Linked DNA regions of Homo sapiens. The protein of the gene in region 3 interacts with the protein of the main gene of each other region in a pairwise test. Each region holds a gene or a part of one and is shown on either strand. Other genes may lie near its edges.

Region 1 (7,604 bases), on a different chromosome or scaffold from region 3:
TGGGCAGGGCAGGGGGACTTAGCCCTGATCCAGTCATGGTGACAGGGAGAATGGCCAAGTGTGTCCACCAGCATGTAGCTGCAGCCCCTCTCGGCTTCCGGTTCATGGGAAGCCCGCACGCTTGTCCTTCCATCCGCCCAGCATCGTATGTCTGCAGGGAGGTGGGAGCTGCAGTGCCCAGCTCACGTGGCTGGCACACGATGCAAACTGAGGCCTCTAGGCAGATCTGGAACAGAGCTGGTCGGGCAACCAGGCATTCAGAAGGAGCGGCAGTAGTCCCAGGACCTGCACCCTAGGCTGTGGGGTGGTGCCGCTGGCCAACCTGGGCAGTAGAGGCTGGGTCTGAGCCCAGGAGGTGCCTCTCAGGGATTCCCGGTGCTTGGGCCCAGGGTGGTGGGCACCACTTCTGCCCTGCCTCCAAGAGCAGAGTCACCCGAAAACCAGATTCACCGCTTGTCTGAAGGGGAAGGCTATGGGAGCAGCCCAGCCCGAACCTGCCACTTTACAGAAGGGAACACTGAGGCAGGAAGGGGCCTGGGAAAAGCTAGAAAGGTTCCTACCTGCCCGTCTGACAGGGACCCAGGGGCCCTGGGTTCGAGTCCTGTTCTGTTATTAACCCTGCGTGCCAGACCATTCCCGTCTGCAAAGCGGGCACTTCCCCCCTCCCCGGCTCACGGGGGCCAAGCTCTGGCGGCTGGTAAAGCTCAGAGGTGGTGGGTGGTGTCACACACCTGTCAGCTCCACAGGCTGCTCCTCACATTCGTGTGGTCTGGGGGCATGGCTGGTGTCTGCTCCCAAGGTCACAGTGGGGGTTCGGAGGCAGGAGTACCTGGCCCACTGGGACTCTACACTCCAGCACACCCTGAACTGTGCCTCTCCCTCAGGCTTCCTGCTGAACTCCAAGTTCCCCGAGAAGGTGGAGGGACGCTTTTCAGCAGCCCCTCTCGTGGACCTCAGCCTGTCACCACCATCTGGGCTGGACTCCCCCAATGGCAGCAGCTCGCTGTCCCCCGAGCGCCAGGGCAACGGGGACCTGCCTCCAGTGCCCAGTGCCTCGGTAAGGAGGGGTGAGAGTTCCGGAGAGAGGGGTGGACTGGTTTCCTGGGGTTGCCATGACAAAGTACCCCAACACTGAGTGGTTTAAAAAACAGATGTGTTACCCCTCATAATTCTGGAGGCTGGAGTCTACCTGGAAGGCTCTAGGGGAGAACCTTCCCTGCCTCTCTCCTGCCTTCTGGCAGCTTCTGGAAATGCCTGGCACTCTAGCCTGGTAGCTGCTTCACTCCAGGCTCTGCCCTGTCTTCACACGGTCTTTGTCCCTCTGTGTCCGAATCTCTCTCTGGTTTCTCTTATAAAGACACCAGTCATGGCCGGGCACGGTGGCTCACACCTGTAACCCCAGCACTTTAGGAGGCTAAAGTGGGAAGATCGCTTGAGCCCAGGAGTTCAAAACTAGCCTGGGCAACATAGCAAGACCCCATCTCTATTTATTTTTTTGAGACAGAGTCTTGCTTCATTGCCCAGGCTGGAGGCCAGTGGCCCGGATCTCAGCTCACTGCAACCTCCGCCTCCCGGGTTCAAGCGATTCTCCTGCCTCAGCCTCCCAAGCTGGGACTACAGGTACACACCATCACACCTGGCTACTTTTGTATTTTTAGTAGAGACAGGGTTTCTCCATGTTGGTCAGGCTGGTCTTGAACTCCTGACCTCAACTGATCCGCCCATCTCGGCCTCCCAAAGTGCTGGGATTACAGGCGTGAGCCACTGTGCCCGGCCTTTTTTTTTTTTTTTTTTAAACAGGGTCTAGCTCTGTCACCCAGGCTGGAGTGCAGTGGCATGATCTCGGCTCACTGCAACCTCTGCCTCCCAGGTTCAAGCAATTCTCCTGCCTCAGCCTCCCAAATAGCTGAGATTACAGGCATGTGCCATCACGCCTGGCTAATTTTTGTATTTTTAGCAGACATGGGGTTTCACCATATTGGCCAGGCTGATCTTGAACTCCTGACGTCAAGTGATCCGCCCACCTCAGCCTCCCAAAGTGCTGAGATTACAGGCGTGAGCCACCGCACCTGGCTATATATTTTTTTTAATTAAGAAAATAAAAATTTAAAACACACCAGTCACTGGGTGTTGGGCCCACCCTAATCTAGTGTGACCTCATGTTAACTTGATTACATCTGCAAAGATCCTAGTTCCAAATAAGGCCACATGCACAGGTAGGGGCTGGGGAGAAGAGGACCTGAATGTCTCTGTTTGGGGACACCATTCAGTCCACTACCGATGGGACGGGGGGCTCTGGGCCAGCAGGACCTTGACTAGCCCTCCCCTCGCACCCCAGGACTTCCAGCCACTGCGCTATTTGGATGGTGTCCCCAGCTCCTTCCAGTTCTTCCTGCCCCTCGGCTCCGGGGGGGCCCTGCACCTGCCTGCCTCCTCCTTCCTTACCCCTCCCAAGGACAAGTGCCTCTCGCCAGACCTGCCCCTGCCCAAGCAGCTGGTGTGTCGCTGGGCCAAGGTGAGTGGGGGCCAGCAAGAGTAGTGTGGAGTCTGGGGCAGGTCACCCCGCATGGGCTCAGAACACTTCCCATCCTCCGCAGTGTAACCAGCTCTTTGAGCTCCTGCAAGACCTGGTGGACCATGTCAACGATTACCATGTCAAGCCCGAGAAGGATGCGGGGTACTGCTGCCACTGGGAGGGCTGCGCCCGCCATGGCCGAGGTTTCAACGCCAGGTGAGGTGGGGGAGAGAGGGGTAGAGGGAGGACTGGGGTCTCCAGTGAGCTGAGCCGTGCCCCCCGCCCTCCCTGGAGCAGGTACAAGATGCTCATCCACATCCGCACACACACCAACGAGAAGCCACACCGCTGTCCGACCTGCAGCAAGAGCTTCTCCCGCCTGGAGAACCTGAAGATCCACAACCGGTCGCACACAGGTAAGAGGCCGGGGCCGGGCGGCTTGGCCCATGAAGGGGGCGCTCAGCTGAGACCGGCTGGGCAGGTCCCCAGGGGGAGGGGACTGTTAAGTAAATCCCGGGCCTCAGAGATAAGGGTTGATGTCATCGCCCAGGGGTCCCTTTTCCAATGCAGTTTGCTAGGGGAAGCATCCCCTGGGGGTCAGACCCCCACCCAGCACCTGCTCTTGGAGCACCAATGCCATTTCCTGGTTCCCGTGGGTATCTTCTGACTAATGCCACCTCTGTGATCGCAGAGGCCAGGTCGGCTTCACTCCTCACTACAGCCCAGGCCCATACCAGGACAGCTCTGGTTGTCAGAGCCACAGACATAATTTTACATTTCCTAATCGCTGCATAAAACACAGCAAAAATAAATGGGTGAAATTAATTGTAATATGGTTCGTTGACCCCGGTACATCCAACGTGTTATCAATTCATTATTAAAGACAAATCAGTGAGATATTGAAGTTCTTCATTTCATGACAAAGCCTCAAGGAGCTGATGTGTATGTTTTTTCCTGGTGTTTATTTCACCCTGGCAGCACATCTCCAGGTGGAGAGCCATGTATCAGGAGGTCAGTCACTACATGTGGCCCCCTGCTCTGGCCAGGGCAGCAGAAGATGCCTGGTGAACCTTCAGCCATTTGTTGAGTGAGGGCAGTAGCGCCCAGGCAGCACTCCCTGTGGCCAGGCCCACGCTGGGCGCCTCGTGCCAGGATGTGATCTCCAAGGCCATGGTGTCTTTTTTTTCTTGAGACAGACTCACTCTGTCACCCAGGCTGGAGTGCAGTGGCATGATCTTGGCCCACTGCAACCTCTGCCTCCCAGGTTCAAGTGATTCTCCTGCCTCAGCCTCTGAGGTAGCTGGGATTACAGGCACCTGCCACCACACCCAGCTAGTTTTCGTAGTTTTAGTAGAGACGGGGTCTCACCATGTTGGCCCTGCTGGTCTGGAACTCCTGGCCTCAAGTGATCTGCCTGCCTTGGCCTCCCAAAGTGCTGAAATTACAGGCGTGAGCCACCGGGCCCGGCCTCCAAGGCCATGTTCTGCTGCTGAAAGGCACATCCTCTGTAGCAGAGGGTGCAGGGCGAGGCTAGGCAGAGCTGGAGTCAACCAGGCTGAGTTTTCAGCCTCTGTGCCCTGCCTGGGGGCAGATCTCATGCCATGTGCTGGGGATGCCCCCTGCCCCCAGAATTGGGGCATCTATGTTCCCAGGGAGTGCTTGGCCCGGGGAAATGTTGAGTGCATGGGGTGAGACCCAGGAAGGGGAGAGACCCCTCATGGCGGCACTGCACTGCACCACCCTGCAGGTGAGAAGCCCTACGTCTGCCCCTACGAGGGCTGCAACAAGCGCTATTCCAACTCCAGTGACCGCTTTAAGCACACGCGCACCCACTATGTGGACAAGCCCTACTACTGCAAGATGCCCGGCTGCCACAAGCGCTACACGGACCCCAGCTCACTGCGCAAGCACATCAAGGCCCATGGCCACTTTGTGTCCCACGAGCAGCAAGAGCTCCTGCAGCTGCGCCCACCCCCCAAGCCGCCACTGCCCGCCCCCGACGGCGGCCCCTATGTCAGTGGGGCCCAGATCATCATCCCCAACCCAGCTGCCCTCTTTGGAGGCCCTGGCCTGCCCGGCTTACCCCTACCCCTGGCCCCCGGCCCCCTTGACCTCAGTGCCCTGGCCTGTGGCAACGGTGGGGGCAGTGGGGGTGGGGGGGGCATGGGCCCTGGGCTGCCAGGCCCCGTCCTGCCTCTCAATCTGGCCAAGAACCCGCTGCTGCCCTCGCCCTTTGGGGCTGGCGGACTGGGCTTGCCTGTGGTCTCCCTCCTTGCTGGCGCAGCTGGTGGCAAGGCCGAGGGGGAGAAGGGGCGTGGGTCGGTGCCCACCAGGGCCCTGGGCATGGAGGGCCACAAGACGCCCCTTGAAAGGACGGAGAGCAGCTGCTCCCGGCCAAGCCCCGATGGACTCCCCCTGCTGCCAGGCACCGTGCTGGACCTGTCCACGGGCGTCAACTCAGCTGCCAGCAGCCCAGAGGCGTTGGCCCCTGGCTGGGTGGTCATCCCGCCGGGCTCGGTGCTGCTCAAACCGGCTGTGGTGAACTGAGCCCATCCTGCGGACAGTTGTGGTGCCCCCCCGGCAGCTCCCGGCACTGCCCCCGACGAACGGAAACTCTTCTGTGAAATAGCAATAATGTCCTACTGCCCGGGCAGCCCCAGCCCAGCCCGCCGGGAGCAAGGATGGTGCTAGGTCATTCATGGCTGGCCTCCCAGCCCCCGGGTGGGGACCTGGCCTGTCATGCAGGGAGAGCTGTGCTCCTGGGTGCTGAAGCCTCGCTCCTGTCTGTCCCCCACCACCTGGCCCTCAGCTTCTGAGAGGCTTTCCCCTGCCCGACCTCCTCCCGTTTCCCTCTCCCACCCTGGCACCTCCCTCACCTAGTGACCACCCATGGCAAGTTGCCCTCTCCCAGCAGAGGGGGTGGGTGGGGTGGCATCTGCCCTCCCTGCTAGCACCAGGCTCCCCCTTCCTGAGAGGAGCCCCCAGGGACCAGAGGCCTGCCCTTCCCTCCTAGGCTTACCCAGCCCCTGCCCTGGGGGCTCCTTGGACCCCTTTCCCTCTGACCCTGCCTCCAGAGGGAAAGCAAGACAGATGCAGGCCCCTGCAAAGCCCCAGGTAGAAGCATGCCCCCCAGGACAAGGCGCCTCCCACTAGTTAGGAGGAGGCCCGCTCTGCAGCCGCCGTCCTCACCCCAGGCCAGGCCTGCAGTACCAGACGGGATAGCTGGCCACTCCACCCCTGCACCCCAGGGTCTCCTCCCTCTACCTTTTGGGGCACCCTGGGAGCGTGGGAAGCAGGTCCGAGGGCCCCTGAGCTGGCAAGGGGAGGTGCCAGGCCAGCTGTGGTGCCAAGATACTGAGTGACCTGGGCCCTGGCTCAGGGAGCATGTGGGGCCAGGCCCAGCGCCCCGTCTTCCTCCTTCTACCCCCGCTGGGCCTGGCCTGGGCAGCGCCCCCTGCAGAGGCCTTTGGGTCCTTGGTCCTGTAACAGGAAGGGGGAGGCTGGCTGGGGACGACCGACCACAGGCTGGGACACAGCTCCTGGTCTGGGGGCTCCAAGTGACAGCATGCAGGGGAGGGGGCTCCCAGTCAGTGCTGTGTTGGGAGCTTTCTGGAGGCTGTGGACTGAAGGCCTTGAGGGAAGCAGTGGCTGGAGGAGGGTGCTGGACCCATGACACGTTGCTTCCTCTGGCTTTTCCCTGCTGGGCCGCTTTCTCAGAGGCACTTCCCCACCCCTAACACCCAGTGGGCCCCCCCAGGTTCTGTGCCACTCAGAGGGACCCTGGCAGGGGCCAGAACCACTTAAGGGTGGTGCTGGAGGGCCTTGTGCCCCAGTCCCATCCCAGGACGCCCTGAGGGATGGACGCAGCCATGCACCCCCCATCTGGGGCCTCTCCCTGCTCCCTCTCCCACCTGGCAGCTGGGAGTTCTGGCTTCTAGGCCTGCCCTGTCACCAGGCCTCTGAGTGGCCAGGCCCTTCCACCTCCCCATCTGTAAAACGAGGCAGCTGCCCGGACAGCCTTGGGGTCCTTAGTGGCCCTGCAGGTCCTCTGGCAGCTCTGCTGACCCCACCCTCTCCCGGACTGCCCTTCTGTCCCAGAGGGGTCACCCTGACCCGGCCCACCTTGCCACTGGGCTTTGGACTCCAGCCCTGACAGGGCCCAGCCACACTGGCTCTGCCCCTCGAAGGGGCTATGAGCAAGGTAGGAGGGAGCTGGTCTCCTTTCTTCGGGCCCCACCCAGGCCCTGAGCACCCCCCACCCCTGTGAGGGCCCCAGGCCTTAAGTCCCTGGCGGGGTCATGGGTTTGCGACTTGAGCAGAGCGGAGGAACAGGGCACTGGAAGGCCGACGAGCTCAGCATGCGACTCGGTGACGGACCAGGCTCGGCAGGGCCGGTGTACTTTTTGTGGTTGTCATTGGTGTGTTGTTGCACATTCCAGGACGTCAGTATTTTAACAGGTTCTAAGTGCCTTTCTATCGTAGCTTATGTTTTCCTCCTCTTGGCTCCATTGCTGTTAGCATAGAGTTTTAAAAAAAGAGATAAGCTAATGACTATAACAATATATTCCTCCATGGGAGAGGAAGTTTATAAAGAAACAATAAAAGTGAGTTGCAAAGATGGCTTGTATGTCGTGGATGTGCCAGGAACCCGGCCCTGACATGAGGCCACCACTGCCCTGAGCCCCTGCAGGCCTGATCCGGGCTTTCTCCCCGACCCTGCAGGTGCCCCTCCCTCTCAATCTGCCGCTTAGAGCAGGAACTGGAAGGTTGGGAAGGAGGTAGGTGCTGAGGGCGCACAGGTGACAGGAACTGAGACAGAAGATTCCAGGCGGAGCATCCCAAGGTCCAAGTCCTCAGCCCACTACTGCCCGCTGCGGCTTTGGAGAGTGGTGGGCAAAGGCCCTTCTCCCCCCAGCCACATTCTGGGGTACTGTGCCCAGATTACTGAGGTGCTAGGTTCAAACCTGCCCCAGGGACAGGGTGGCTGCCGACAAGAGCTCTGGGGCCAGGAGACCGCCACCCCGTGGGAGGGGCAGGGGCGCTATGGGAGGGAGCCTCACCCTGGCACGGGTGCTGTGGAAGCAGGAGC
Region 2 (7,604 bases), on a different chromosome or scaffold from region 3:
TTTCAACTCTGACAGTCTATGAAAAACTTGTTTTATTACAGAATTCACATATTAGCCACATTTCATACAGTATTATCAATATAGAATATTTTTACCTTGATATTCTGGGCATCAACATTAGCTCCAGCTTCCAGAAGAAGGCTAATGACTGTGGTATTCCCTGCTAGCACTGCCCAATGCAGAGCAGTGTTTTTGTGATACTTGTCACCAAGGTTAACTGAAACATTGAATGTTAAAAGCAATCTAGTTGGATCCACACTGAAAAGGAAAAAAAAAAAAAACAAACAACAACAACAACCCTAATTTCAATTATAGAAATCATTACAAATACTAAACTGATTATGCTTACAGTAGCATTCCATTTTGGAACACTTCTAACCTACTCAACAACTTTAAAATCAATAATGAGACAATATTCTAATATGAAGTATTAAGTATGTATGACACCATATAAAATAATATATTAATAGTTTCAGGGGATAAGCAACTTGGTCCTGATATTTTCTATTTTTGACCTAGAAATGGCATTAATACTTATACAATTCAAGAATAACACTTTTTAAAATTTAAATTTGGAGTCTTCCAAAAGTGATCTAAGACAACTTACTAATTAATAAATTTGTCAATATGTAAATCACATGAAAAAATTAATTAATTTTTAAAAAAAGATAACTTCTTTTCTTAGATATTGTTAAAAGAGAAACAGATTAAGGAAGCTCTAATCAGTGAGGGAGAGACAGCACAGAGATACCAGAACATCCAAAATGGTAATTTATATATACTATAGTCATAATAAAAACTGTAAATATTAGTGAGTATAGTATTAACTGCTTTTTCCTCTCTCTTACTTCATATTGTATTATGCTGAAATGGCCTAAATAAGTTTTTTATAGTCATTACATACCTATGTGTTCTATATGCTGCCCACATTAAAGGCGTCATTCCATTCTGATCCATCATATCTACATCCTGATAAAGTAAAAAGAAAAAAAGTCAGACAGTTAAATTATAAGTTCCTAACCAAATTTGCTTGGAAAAATCTAATCTATATATAAAAGGAGAAGCGAATATAATACTACTCAATCAAGGATAATGTATGAAACTTTCTTTCTTAACTTTAAAATGAAACTCTTGTCACTATATACTCTAGTGAACATATATCATGCTTTTACATTATTCCCTTTTAAGATGTTTTAATCAGCCTTTCAATGTTTCACATTTAAAATTCTTAACCTATTCTGACCTTTCAACCACAAAGGATAGGTTAAGTGATTAAGTTTCTGAAAAACTTGTTTATACTAATGCATAAGAGAGAACGACAAAACTGTTTATTCCTAGGCATTTCAAAACAAAAAATAAAAAGAACTGACATTTTAATATACTCAGTTTTTACTGTTACACATGTACATTTTTAGAGTTAAATGATTCTGCAGTTTGTGTGGAAAAAGCAACACACTAAAGCAATCCCCCTGCCTTACTTCCCACCATTTTCACCATTTTTTGGCTCATTATTTTTATATTTACCTCCATATCTTTAAATAAGATGTTTGAATTGCTACTTCTTGATTTTTCAGTTTCAGGCATTATTCTGAAATTCCTTGGTACAAAAAATCTGAATTTTTCTCTTTCCTCTCTGCTACATCACAAATGCACGCCTTTCCTATTCTTTCCTCTCAAGAGATCTATTGTAATTCTGGTTCATATAAACATTTAATACTTGATATGTATTATTATAAATATGCATAAATACTATTCCCAGCCAAACCATGTAATAAACCACTATTTTTCCTCTTCTACTCAATTTTTTGCTTTCCCTGGCACCATCTTTCCCCCACTACTACTTAGTTTTTAGCAAATTATAACTAAAACTTCCACCTATTAAACCGAAACTCTTTCCTAGTTATCTAATTCTCCTTGCGCAAGACTTTCTGATGTATCAGGGACTCTTATCAGTTTCAATGCTCTGAAACTACCTTTCCTAACCCACTCCATTCTGAACTGATTATCCTCTATGCCTGAAATGTGTGTCTCATTAACCTGGAGTACTTTGAAAATAAAAATCATCTCAAATCCATCTTCGTATTCTCAGTGCCCAGCAGAGTAGATGATCGAAAACCATTTATTAAAGGAAAAGACATGCTTATCTATCTACTTTTCTAGGCTTGGCTTTAGAATAAGACATGGTTTTGACTTCCTAGCTCCATCATATAATTGCTATGAGATTGTAGGCTAAATTACTTTAATTCTTAGTCTTAGCTTCCTCATTAAAAAATGTGAAATACAAATAACTTCATAAGACTTCTGTGAAGATTAAATAATGTGTGCAAAGCATCTAGTCAACAGCTGAGAACATAATGGATATTCAATAAATATTAAGTTTCTTCTTCTTCTCTACCCCATCTCCCATTCCTGAATTACATTAAGCAAGCAGTTCTAATCCAAGTTGTGTTACCTAATTCACCAATCAGTGGAGAGAGCAGAGAGTTACAGTAAGCACACTGTAAAACACTATCTCTATGCATCAGTTCTCTGTGAGCCACTGTTAGCAATAGGAATATGTCTCAAATGTGAACATTATCTAAGCATATTGAAGAAAAAAAATCTGAGAACCACTACATTAGATAAGTAAAGCATTTCCTTGGATGTCATTAACTTAGTCACTCACCATGCATACTGTCATAGAATGTTATGCCTTATCCATTACAAATCCATTTCTGGATTTACTTTAATAGTGTTGTCAGGAATATCTTCTGCAACCTCACTCAACATTTCCAATATGCAAGTACATTTTTTAAAATAATCCTGTGGCTTAAAAAAAATATGTTTTCTGAAGAAACAACAAACTTCCTTATTTCTTATATGAGAAGTAACTATTGTGACTTCTTTTACTCCTAATTTCCGTAGGACCTCAACCAAATTTCAGGTCTAATTAAAGCAAGCATGTAAATTCTTATGTTTAAGTTTCTCCTTCTTCTTAGTTGTGTTTTCATATCCTTTTTAAAAAATGATAGTATTAAAAATATCAATAAATAAAAAAATGTAAAATCATGGCACATCTCTAGAGTACTAAAAGAAAAATGAAATTCAACCTTTTCTCTCTTTGGGTCGGGATTTAAAACTTGGTACTTCTTTTCCAAGTTCAGCCTGGACGTATGGGTATTCTCTATTAGGAAGAATTAACAAGCCCAGATCAAAAGCTTATGGGAATTCCATGATCAACAGGGCTCCATAACTTAGCATTTTCCCCTTTTTCTCCTGAAAATCATCCAAAAGAATTGGTAGTGAGCACTAAATATATTTAACAATATAACTAAAACAAAACGATTGTGAAGAATAGAATGACAAAACTGAATGGAAATGTTATATACCCTGACAATGTAAAATTGATATAATTAACAACAAAATGGGAAAATGGAAAAAGGTTGAAATGAAAATATGCTGAGAGCCTCATCTATAGTAGCCATGAATCAAAGAAAACTATCTAAAGCTGAAAAATCAAGTAATAAAAATGTAGTAAAAATTTATCAGAACATAGTTAACATTAAGAAAAACAATATTATTGACTACAGTCGATAAAAGAGAAAGGGAAGAAGAAATAAAAATATGCTAATTTTATTACTGCTTATAATTAGGAACTATGTAATCAGAACTAATAAAATTTGAGCAACCATCTGACTGAAGAGAGAGAGAGAAACTGTGTGACTATCTGAGGAAAGAATATACCAGCAGAAGAAACAGCAACCAAAAGGCCCTTAGACAACAGCATGTCAGAGTTGCTGAAAAAGTAGCAAAAAAAAACTAGTGCAGTTAAAGCAGAGTGATGATGGGGAGATGGCAGAAGTGGAGCTCAAAGGTATCCAGGGGTTAAACGGCACAGTGCTCTAGCACAGAGAAAAACTCTGGGCCCTCACAGTATGATGCAATGCACATTGGAAGAGTGTCTTTTACAATATATTAGTGTATACATGTTGAGTATCCTTTATGTAAAATGCTTGGGACCAGAAGTGTTTGAATATGTGTATGTTTTTCCTATGTTGAAATATTTGCATATATGTAATAAAATCTTGAGAATGGGACCAAAATCTAAATGTGGAATTCATTCATCTTTCATATACACCTTATACATACAGCCTGAAGGCAATTTTATTCAATATTTTAAATAATTTTGTACATGAAACAAAGTGTGTGTACAACGAACTATATTGGAAAGCAAAGGTGTCAGGGGTAAAATTTTCCACTTGTGGCATCATGTTGACACTCAAAACGTTTTGGATTTCGCAGCATTCCGGATTTTCAGATTACAGATGCTTAATCTGTACATGGAATAAAATCTCTTAAAATACATACTACATTATTAAAGGAAGTAACCTCAGTCAGCAGATGGCCAAGGGGAGAGGTGAGATTTCATTTTCTAAGTCATATTCTATTATGCCTGAATATTTCATAATAAACATTTATTATCTTTGTGTGCAGAAAAAAAATTTACTCATGGAAAAAAAAAACTATTTCTCAGACATTTATCATCATCATTATCATCATCATGCCCTTTTTGTACCAAAAGCACTGACAGGTAGAAATCCTGCCCTTTGAGAATTTTATAGCCTATATACTATACCAGAGGTTAAAAAGATTAATGAAATAATCCAAACTCCAAAATCAATAAGTTAAAAAAAAGACCATGAAGACTCAAAAATGTACACCACCTTTCTTTCCCAGTTAAAAACTGAAAGTAAAAAAGTGAATGTGTATTGTAGATTTATTCTGCAATATGGAAGGCCACTAAAGACCTTGTGATGTGCTATAGCACCATTTACTGCTTCAACGTTTGTTCTAGAAAAAAACTGCAGAATAACAAGAATAATCTCCTATAGCAGTTGCTCTCCAGATGACCCCCCATAAACCTGGCCTCTTGGTATTCACACCCTTGTGTGGTCCCTTCCCTCCGGGTGGTTATGGCCCTTGTTAACTCACTTTAACTGATAGAATGGAGAAAAAACGTTGCTGTGTCAGTTCAAGACCTAAGACTTAAAAATGCAAAACAGCTTCTACTTTTGTTCTTTTGGGAGCTCTAAGCCAATATGTAAGAAGTCTAGTTCTCCTGCTGGAAAGACCACATGGACTGGTATTGAAAAGTAGAAGTTCTGACACTACATAGAGAAAGAAAGAGGCCTCGCTGCCCCAGCCTCCCAGTTAAGCAGTTTGTAGCCATTCCTATCAAGTCACAAGATATGTGAGCCAATCTTCCAGCTCAGTCAAGCCGCCAGACAACTGCAGCCACCAGCCAAGGAGAAAAACCATCCAGCCAAGCCCACAAAATTGTGAGACGTATTAATTGGTTGGTATTGTTCTTAAGCCATTAGATTTTGGCAGTAGTTTTTTAACACAGTAACAGACAATAACCCCCCCTCCCCTTCCAGCAATTAACTTTATCAGTCTATGCCTCTTTTCCTAAACTATAATGCACAACACAACTGCCACTGCTTGAGACTGCCAACAACAAATACTGTAAAACCTTCATTAAAAGAAATAGTATTCAAATTCTAAATCCGCATAGAATTTTAAATTAACAATAAATACATGTTGATAGCAACAAATTAAATACATATATCTTAAAGTTATTCTTGTGATGAGATCCTTACTTATAAAATTAATGTTCAAATATAACCAGAAAAAACACACTAAAGAAAAACTGGGTGACATTACTTTTAACAAAATACGTTTATTACAAAAACATGATTATATAAACTGGTAATATTTAATGTGATTATGGTCACTGCACACTCAAGAAAAATCAGGAACAACCACTTAAAATATGATGTTTTTCTGACAAGTAAGAAGCAGCATTATCTTATACAGCAGAAACTGATCTTAAAAAATGTATCCCTCTCAAGAGATATTTAATATATAAAATAACCAATAAATAAGTTCAAAAAAGTTTGGATGAATTCAGATGATATATTCAAAATACATAAAGAAAAAATAGATACTTATATTTTCTCTCTTAATTTCTGAGCTTTATCTCCATTACTCTTAGAAATAAAAAACCCAACTTCATCATTATCTGGTTCATGATTTTCATGCTGGCTTTTATGTTAGGTACATTAAATATCTCCATATCAAACTCACTATATTTATGTTCTTCACCCATCAGAAAGTGCTATTTAAATATCAACGGCTTGTTACAACACCAATAATATTAGGCATTTAAACTATGAAGAACATCTGATTAAAATCCATACCACTGAGATTTTTTTTACCTGTCCTTTTGCTATGAGATAAGCAACAATTGAGGTATGTCCGAACTGAGCAGCCAGATGAATACAGCTACATCCTTCTCCATCAATTAATGAAGGATCTGCACCATATTTCATTAGTTGCACAACCATGGATAGATGGCCTTGTCTAAAACATAAAAGAATAAACACTTAGATATATAAAGTTATTTCAAACAGGATCCTCTGGGAAGAGCTTTTTCAAGTAAGGTATGGTGGGAAGATTACGTATGTATTTTGAAAAGTTATTTTAAAATAGATACATGTCAAAATACATTTAGGATTTTATGGTTCTTAGAAGTCTTAACTAGATTAACAGTCTGAAAATGTATGGAAGTACTCATAACTTATTTAAATATATAGTAAATAATTACTATATTCTATTATGTCCATTCTAATATTATCTCAATCATCCCAAGAAATGAGCTAATTCTTTCATTGTAAATATATACAGGCTGCAAAAATATTACGTTTAGAAATCCAAAGTTTAATCCAATCTTATAACTAACTGAATTAATATCAGCATGGCCAGGGAAACTTTGGACAATAAACTTTTGCTTCTTTACAGGTAATATTTCACAATAAAACATCAGCATATTTATGATATTAACTAACGGCATAATAAGCTCTCCTATTCATTTTAGTATATCATTTTTTTAAAGTTGTTTATTTATATACTAATAAAGGAACCAAAGGAAAAAAATCCAGAAGCAAATTTAAACCTTGTGGCCCAGTGCAATGGAGTTGAATTCAGGTCCCCTCCAAGTTGATCCACAATAGCACCTTTCGAAATATAGTATCTATAAGACAAAATTTATAATAATTTAAATAACTTTCATTTTCAATTTTAAGAAATTTTGTGAAAAATATGTAAATACATGTTTTCTATTTCAGATCTCATGCTAGTTTGAACCTTTGAAAATAAATAATCTTTTGTGGTTGTTTAAAAAACATATTTAGCAGAATTTTATATCAAATACCTCTTTTGTTCTAGAATAAGGAAAAGAAAAATAATTTTTAAGTTACAAAAAAAAAAGAATAAAAATGCCAAAAAAATCACGTAAAAAAGAAGGTACTCAAGGAACTACAAAGATTTGAATAGTAGCATATAGAAACTTGAAATTAGAATAGTTGCAGAATAGGCAAGACATGGTCTACCTTGGGTAGCTCAGCTTTTTAAGCCTTACTTTCCTTAAGATTACTGTAGATTAAATCAAATAATATACACATAACATAAAGGTTCTTTACTATGCCTTGTTATTTCTTGTGCCTTTAAAGCCATGTTGCTTGAAAAGGAAATAGCAACTTTAGTATTAGATTAGTAAGCTTAAT
Region 3 (8,209 bases):
TTGGAGGGATCTAAGCTCTCAGGTCCAATTTTATTGGTGGGGAAGTTGAGGTCCACAGCCTCCACCTTGCCCTGCTGCTACACAGTGAGCCAGTGGCCTTGGGAGGCCCTGGAGAGGGTGGAGCACCCCATATCCCTCGAGGGCACCTGTTTTTACTCTCCACGTCTGGGAGGCCCAGAAGTAAACTCCTATAAGTCACCTGGCAACAAATAGGGACAGCCCAGAGACCCATGGGCAGAACCTGAGGGTTTGAACCTGCCTCTCCCTCTCCAGAGGCCCAGCTACTTTGTGGGTACAACCAGTGTTGACCAATCAGGGGGTCACATGCAAATGACTCCCCTTAGCTGAGCTGTTGTGTTATTAGGTTTACAGTCTGTTAAATCCTAGTTTTTGACATCCCCACTTTAAACAAACTTGCATCCTAGTTTGGGCATGGAAAATACCTCAGAACGATGGGCTGGGAGTCCCAGACCTGCCATTGATGAGTTGAGTGACCCTGATCAAGTTAGGTAACCTCTCCAAGCCACTGAGGATCTAACAGTGCCACATCTATACAATTTGGTGGCCCAGGCACTTCTAGGCTTAGTGATTCTGCACATCAGAGTCATCAGGAGACAATTTTTTTTTTTGAGATGGAGTCTTACTCTGTTGCCCAGGCTGGAGTGCAGTGGGGTGATCTTGGTTCACTGCAACCACGTCCGCCTCCTGAGTTCAAGCCATTCTCCTGCCTCAGCCTCCTGAGTATCTGAGATTACACCATGTCTTGCTAATTTTTGTACTTTTAGTAGAGATGGGGTTTCACCATGTTGGCTAGGCAGGTCTTGAACTCCTGACCTTGCAACCTGCCCGCCTCAGCCTCCCAAAGTTCTGGGATTATAGGTGTCAGCCACCAGGCCTGGCCAGGAGACAGGTTTAAACTACAGGTTTCCTAGGCCTAGGCCCCATGCCAGATTAAAACATCCAGAGGTGGAACATGAATACTTGTTATTAGTGCTTGTAAGTTCCTAAACAATCCTGATACATAGCCACACTGAGCACCACTGTGTAAGATGAGCTCAGAGTTGACTATAAGATCACAGGTACTCTCACTCAAGCCCCCTCCTGCCACCCACCCCATGCCAGGCCCTGTGCTGAGTTCTGGGGACAGAGAAAAGATTCAGGCCAGATCCTGCCTTCAAGAAACATTGAGGGTGAGGGGAGACAGACCTAGACTAAATTAGACTATGTAGTAGTATTGCTATAAAGGAAGTTTTTCACTCCCTCCTTCCTTCCTTTGCTCACTCAGTGAACATTCCCTGAGCCCCACTGTGTAAGAAAGGTCAGCATAGACTCCCCATCATCGAGCACTAATTGAGCATGTGCCATTTACCTAGCCTTGTGCCAAGTTCCATAGAGGCAGCGCAATCAGGCCTCATTCTTGCCTTGGAGGAAGTTCTAGGCCTCATGGAAGACTACACAGACAGGAATAAACCAGCTCTGAAACCAGGCAGAATGAAGAAAGCACTAAGCCTTGGTGCCGCTAGGCTGAGGGAGGGAATGACGATGCCTAGTGGTCTAGGAAGTCCCCACTGAGTAGGTGGCAGGCAGCCTTTGAGGTGGGCCTTACAGGATGAGCATCAGTTTGTCAGGTGAATGAGGAAACTGAGGTCTTGTCAGCAGAGGGAACAGCATGTGCGAAGGCTGGCAGAGGGAAAAGGTCTGGTGTGGCTGGGGACAGAGGGTACAGCAGAGCAGCTGGTTTGTGTCCTGTGGGTGATAGGGAGCCATGGAATGTTTGTCACAGGGAAGGGATGGACTGGGCCTGGTTTTGGAGGCTCATCCTGGTGGCCAGTATGGAGGCAGGGAGGGCCGAGCCAGCACTTACCCAGATCCGCCTCTCAACCTTACAGGGGCTCCACGAGCGGGTCACACACCTGACCTTGGAGCAAACCCGGCGGCTCCTGGGAGGGACGGTGGCTCCAGCTGGGGCCTGCTCAAGCCACAGAAACCCAAGAAGGAGGAGGGAGGGAGGGGGTGTCAGAGGCCCTCTACACCTAAAGAGACTCAAGAGCTCTTTCCAGACCCTACCAGAGCCCTCCGCCAGCTGGGCTGTGGCAGGGAGCATCCTCTTTCTCCTCAGCTCATGGTAACGGGGGAGGCTCAGAGAATGCTGATGACTGCCAAAGTTACGCAGAAAAGAAGGACAAGTAGTCTCTTTCCAGAATTAGCCCACCCTCCCCTATTTCATCCTGCTGGGGTTCCCAGTCTCCAGGGAGGACAGGGCGACTCCCTTCTGTCCTCTAGCCCACCTGGTCCGCTTCACCCCAGCCTCGTCCCTAGCTGTGCCCCCAGGCCCTGTGTTCCCAGTAAAGCTGGTGTTAGGGGCTCCTGGAGCCTCCACCTGGAGTGAGGTATGAACTCCAGCATGTCGGAGGACAAAGGGCAGGTCATTCCCACACAGGCTACAGAGAGAAGCCCATAAACAGAGGTGAACACACAAAGATAGGTAGACACAGGCACAAATACACCCCGACTCTAGTAAGCCCGGGCACAGAAGGACGTGTATATGTGGAGTAGTGGGAGGTAGAATAGAGGCCAGGGCAGAGAGAAGGGTCAGCAGAGCCACAGGAGATGGACAGGCAGAGAAGGACGAGGCCGCTTCATAGAGTCACAGAGTGCAGACAGTCACCCTTGCCTCCTTCCCTCCGCCTCTCTTTGGTGGAACTGACTTGCCCCACATAAAGAGGCTTTGGAGCTCAGAGCCAGGGTAGCCTGACCTGGGTCCCTCCACCCTGCAGACTACTGCTGTAGCCTCCTTACTCCCAGCTTTCTCCAATTCACCCGCCACTTGGAAGCCTGAGTCTGCTCCCCAAAATCTGACCACAGCCCTCGCTGCTGAATGCCCTTTATTGCTCCCTACAGGCCTCAGGGAAAGTCCATTTCTTCCAACTGGACTTTGAGGCCCATCATGAGCTGGCCCCGATGACCTCAGAGGTCATCTCTCCTGTTTCATTCGCCTCATGAATTGCTCTCCAGCCAGGCAGACTCTGGGCCCTTAGACGCATGCATATGTGCATAAGCACTTGTGCACACACACATGTGCACACATCACTTCTCTGTCTCTGCTCATGCAGCTACTTCTGCAGATAACGCCCTCCTCTCAAAATCTCACTGACCTAGGTTCCATGGTAGGCTTTTCCACTGACTTAAGAGTATAAGCTTTGGACAAGTCACCTCCCCTCTCTGAACCTCGGCTTCCTTATCTGTAAAATGGGACTAATAATACCAACCCCCACCCAGCTGCCCTGCCAGGGTTGTTGGAAGATGAAATGATGTCACTGCTGCCAGGGGCTTAGCATGATGCCTGGCACTCAGGACGTGGATGCCTGAGGAGGTTTCTAAATGCATCCAGGTCTCCCCTGCTACTTCCCAACGGACTTTCTCTATAGGTGAGAGGGGGCTCCATTGTGCCATACAGAGAAAGAGCAAGCACAGATTCTGGAGTCAGGCAGATGGGGGTGGAGGCCAAGCTGGGCTTTGGGCGGCTCTTCAAACCGCCACTTCCATCAGTCACAAGCTCTGTTGACTCCATCTCCTAAATATGTCCTGTACTCATCAGCCTGTCTCGGCCAACAAGGCCTTAATCCAGATCTCCAGTCTGTTGCCCGGACACTGTCCCAGCCTCCTAAGTGGCCTCTGGGTGTCTGCAGTTACCCTCTATAATCCATTCCCTACCTACCAGCCAGACTATCTTTTTTTTTTTCCTTTTTTCTACAACAAAATTTCATAAACTGACAGACTACCCCCTTTTTTTTACATGCCCCAACGTTACAACAATTATCTTTTTAAAAATATAAATTGAACCTGATCTGATCATGCCATCCCTCTGTTCAAAAACTTGTCATGGCTCCCTGGTGCTCTTAGCAGAAACCAACATCCTTCATACAGCCCACAAGACCTGGTCGTGCCAACCCTCCTTCCCTCCTTACCCACTCACTCCCTAAGCACCAGCCACCCCAGCTGTCCTTCTGTTCCTCAACTTGCCAAATGTCTTAACCTCTCTCAGAGCCTTGGCACATGCTGATCCCTCTGCCTGGAATGCCGTGCCCTTTACCCGATCCCCACACCTTTCACCCAGTCAATTTCTGTTTATCCTTCAGTCCTCGGTTTAAGCCTTGCCTGAACTACCACCTGGATGAAAGGGCCAGACACTGCAAATCTCTGTCAGAGCTGTTATTACTATTGAAATGGAATAATTAATTAGTTGTTCCATGTCTGGCTTCTCATTAGGCTGAGTCCAGGTGGGCAGAGCCCATATCTCCTTGGTTCACCTCTGATCCCTGGCACTTGGCACACCACCTGGCCCATAGTAGCAGCTCAGTAAATATTTGTTGTGCGGATGAATGAGCTTCAGTCTTATCATCTGCAGAGAGAGAACAATAACCCCAACTTCACAGGACTGTTGTGAGGAGCAGCTGGAATGATACCTGCACCACACCTGGCACATAATAGTTGCTCGATAAAAGACAGTTCCTTCTCCCCAGCTCATGTGCCACTCCCTCCAGCAAATCTCCATGGAGGCTTCTCTCTCTCCTCTGAGCACCAGTTGGCTCTCCCTTATCCTTTCCCCGAACACTTGGGACTCAGGCATCAGAGTTTGCAGAAACCTATCCACATAAGACTGAGAACTTCTGGCAGGTGGAGACCGAGTCTGAGTCACTCATGATTCCATGGCACATGGAGGTGGTGGGGAAAGGGGGAGAGAACGGGAGACTCACCGGGGTGGAGTTTGCCTCCAGCAGTGCTGTCTTCCATGCTCTGCAAAGCAAATCCCACCAGACCATGAGGAGGGAGTTTGGGGGTGGGTGAATTGGGCCCCCACATTTTAGACTTTCCTCTCCAACCCAGCCTCAAGCCCAAGTCTCTCATGAAAGGAGAGATCTCTTGTCTCCCTCAGGAAGACAAAAGTGACCCCTCCCCTGCCCCAGTCACATGGATGGAGCACTAAGTTAGGCTAATTCATTCTTCTCGTCCCCTCTAGAAGTTCCAGTTTCCTCATCTATACAGTGGACGGTTGGGCTTGGGTGGTCTCTCAGGGGATGTCAGATTCTGACACTCTTGGGTGGGTGTTGTAGCCCAGTCCCCCTCCACATCCCAAATCTACAAACAAAACACTTCCCCAAAGCTCTGACCCCAGAGCCTCAGGAAGGCCCAGCAGACACGGGACAATGGGGCCTTTGTTGGTTGCCATGGCACCTGGCTGGGTTGGACAAGGCGGCTCTGTGCTGTCTGCCTGGAGCTCAGCTTCCCCCACTCCCACACACCCATCTCTTTCACTCTCCTCCAGCGCAAAGGCCATGTACCCCTTAGCCAGAGGGTAGGAAGGGACGGAATGTGAGCCAGCAGATGGTGCCTGAGAAGGACACACCCAGGCTGGCCACGTGGATATGCATCTGACATTGGGGTGCCCCTGCCTGGGACGCAGCTGACTGCCTTTGTAGGCAGGTCCAGGGCTACCCCTCAGATCAGAGTCCCCCACCAGGGCATCTTCTAAGAAGGGAGCAAGGGTGCCACTAGGCTGCTCTGCTGCTTTGCATCACCCTCAGGTGAGGGCTCACCTCAGAGGCCGCTAAAGACCAGGAACCAGATACCTGAGGCAGGTGTGCACACCTCCCCCTCAGCAATCCTGAGTTCACTGTAGACCACATGAGGAGTTCACTGTGTGCCATGCCAGTCACCACAAGCCCTTCAAATCCACTCCACCCGCCTCCAATAAGACTCCCTTGCTGACTGGCCTTAGTGCCCTCTTCCTACGGTCAGAGAACCAGAAGGCCCAATGAGAAGGGGGCACATGGTAACTTTCCCCGAGATTCCACCCCATCCTCTCCTGGGAGTGACTCACAGGGCATCATCCTTGGTCTCCGCACAGAGGTGCAGGCGGCCGCCTTCCCGTAGGTTCACAGTCAGCAGGCCATCTCGGCTCCGGCCCTCTGGGGGCTGCACATCTGGAAGCAGACACACATATATGGGTTTCCACAGGCACAAGCCCCAGGTCCCCCCAGTAAAGCAGGGACAGGAATAGGAATTGACTTCTCTGGGCTCTGTTTACTGGCCACTGCCAACCTCCTCTGATCCCATATACTCTCTGAGGGATTCCACTCTACGTTTCCAACCTTTCCAACCTTTCCATGCTGAGGCTTCCCTCAGCACACCTCCCAGTTACCCTGTTAGAACTGTGGCCTGGGCCTTGGTGGAGGAATGTGGAGATTTGCTGTGACTCTGGGCCACTTCGCTTCTCTGGGCCTCCTAATTTCATTTCGTCTTCATCCAGTACCGAGCGCCTGGAGGGCAGGAACTGTGCCTGGCTCACCTCTGAGACAGCACAGAGGAGAAAGGCACTAAAGGACTGATTTTTCTTTTTCTTTTTTTTTTTTTTTTTGAGACAGGGTCTAGCTCTGTCCCCCAGGCTGTAGTGCAGTGCCATGAACACTCACTGCAACCTCTGCCTCCCAGGCTCAAGCAATCCTCCCACCTGAGCCTCTTAAGTAGCTGGGACTACAGGTACACACTACCATGCCCGGCTAATTTTTGTTTGTTTTTGTTTTGGTAGAGACGGGGTTTTGCCATGTTGCCCAGGCTGGTCTTGAACTCTAGACTCAAGTAATCTACATGCCTCTCAAAGTACTGGGATCATAGCTTACTGCAGCCTTGAATTCCTGGGCTCAAGCAATTCTCCTGCCTCGGCCTCCCCAGTAGCCATATGTGACCGCATCTCACCAATTTTTTTTTTTTTAAGAGACAGGGTCTCGCTATGTTGGCCGGGCTGATCTAGAACTCCTGACCTCAAGTGATCCGCCCGCTTCAGCCACCCAAAGTGCTGAAATTACAGGCATGCGCCACCACACACAGCCAAGGACCTATTTCTTAACTCACACCAAACTGAATTGGAGTTGACAGAGGCTCAGAAGCAATGTCTGTGAAATGCCTCTGAAAGCTGCAAAAAGACTTCCAACAGCAAGTGTTCTCGGAGACAGCGGGAGGCTCTGCCCACAGTCACGGTGCCACAGAGGAAGGGGCTTCTGCTCACCATGGCACTCTGGGCCGATCTTTATGTCACGGACATTGAAGTGGATGAGCACACGGTCCTCCTCGTCCTGCGCTGTCTCATCGTGGTAGTATCCCAGGGTCCCGTCCAGCCACAGGGCAAACCAGTTCCGCTTCCAGCGGCGGAGGATGGAGCCTGTACGATATTCCAGATGCACTAGGCAGGCTGATCCCAGAGCCTGCTGGGAATAGAAGCCCCAGACAGACTCCCAAGTCCCCTCAGCCTCAGTCCCTAGTGTTACAACCACCTTTTTCTTGTCTACCCCCTGAAATGAGGGCAGGACCTCTTTCTGTCTTGTTCACCTCCTGCCTCCCATTGGGTCTGATGCATAGCAGAAGCTCGATACACGTGCTGAACAGGGAAATGAGTGACTGGGCCCATTACTTGGAAGCTTCTAAGGCCAAGCCCCAGGTCTCTTCAAGGGCAAAGACCTCTCCCTACCTTAAGCCTGCATCTTCTCTCTCTCTGTCTTTGAGACAGGGTCTTGCTCTGTCACTCAGGCTGGAGTGCAGGGGCACAGGCATGGCTCACTGCAGCCTTAACCTCCTGGGCTCAAGTGATCCTCCCATCTCAGCCTCCCAAATAGCTGGAACATCAGGCACGCACCACTGCACCTGGCTAATTTTTAATTAGCCAGGTAGGTATTCTTGGAGACAGTGGGTCTCACCATGTTGTCTAGGCTGGTATCAAACTCCTGGGCTCAAGCAATCCTCCCAACTCAGCCTCCTAAAGTGTTGGGATTACAGGCATGAGCCACTGTGCCCGGCCTCTTATCTCTCATCTCTGACTTGTGTGATGGTTATTTGTGTAGCATCTGCCTCCTGTACCACTCTGGGGGCTATGGCTCCCCACGCAGGTCCTGGCACCCAGGGAGACCTGGCTCAGTGTTTGCTGAACTAAATGAACTGAGAATGGGCAGGGGTATGGGGCATGGGGCTGCTTGTCCCAGGGGTCCCCAGGATAGCTCTTGCTCAGGTCATGACTCTGGTCAGAGGTGGGTCTAGAAGCCCGAGACCGAGCTTCTGACATTTTGCAACTGGAAATCTTAACAGGGAAGGGCAAAGACATAAGAGAGCTTCTTAGGGCTTTGTGGATTCCAAAGCACAAAGGCATTTTTCACTTTGT

What was found. Proteins that work in one complex are often made in the same cells at the same time.
Region 1: the proteins of PLEKHB1 (region 3) and GLIS2 interact in binary tests that used the Homo sapiens proteins (3 or more experiments, as listed by UniProt).
Region 2: the proteins of PLEKHB1 (region 3) and ZDHHC17 interact in binary tests that used the Homo sapiens proteins (3 or more experiments, as listed by UniProt).

The regions. Positions count from the first base shown.
Region 1 is NC_000016.10:4,332,463-4,340,066, forward strand, and holds the end of GLIS2 (zinc finger protein GLIS2), read left to right. Parts: intron 1-884; coding exon 885-1,057; intron 1,058-2,338; coding exon 2,339-2,515; intron 2,516-2,597; coding exon 2,598-2,731; intron 2,732-2,812; coding exon 2,813-2,931; intron 2,932-4,262; coding exon 4,263-5,062; 3' UTR 5,063-7,133; downstream 7,134-7,604. UniProt on the Homo sapiens protein: Can act either as a transcriptional repressor or as a transcriptional activator, depending on the cell context. Acts as a repressor of the Hedgehog signaling pathway. Represses the Hedgehog-dependent expression of Wnt4.
Region 2 is NC_000012.12:76,808,511-76,816,114, reverse strand, and holds part of ZDHHC17 (palmitoyltransferase ZDHHC17), read right to left. Parts: intron 7,073-7,604; coding exon 6,995-7,072; intron 6,403-6,994; coding exon 6,258-6,402; intron 970-6,257; coding exon 905-969; intron 259-904; coding exon 96-258; intron 1-95. UniProt on the Homo sapiens protein: Palmitoyltransferase that catalyzes the addition of palmitate onto various protein substrates and is involved in a variety of cellular processes.
Region 3 is NC_000011.10:73,649,563-73,657,771, reverse strand, and holds part of PLEKHB1 (pleckstrin homology domain-containing family B member 1), read right to left. Parts: intron 7,220-8,209; coding exon 7,067-7,219; intron 5,985-7,066; coding exon 5,882-5,984; intron 4,798-5,881; coding exon 4,758-4,797; intron 1,970-4,757; coding exon 1,865-1,969; intron 1-1,864.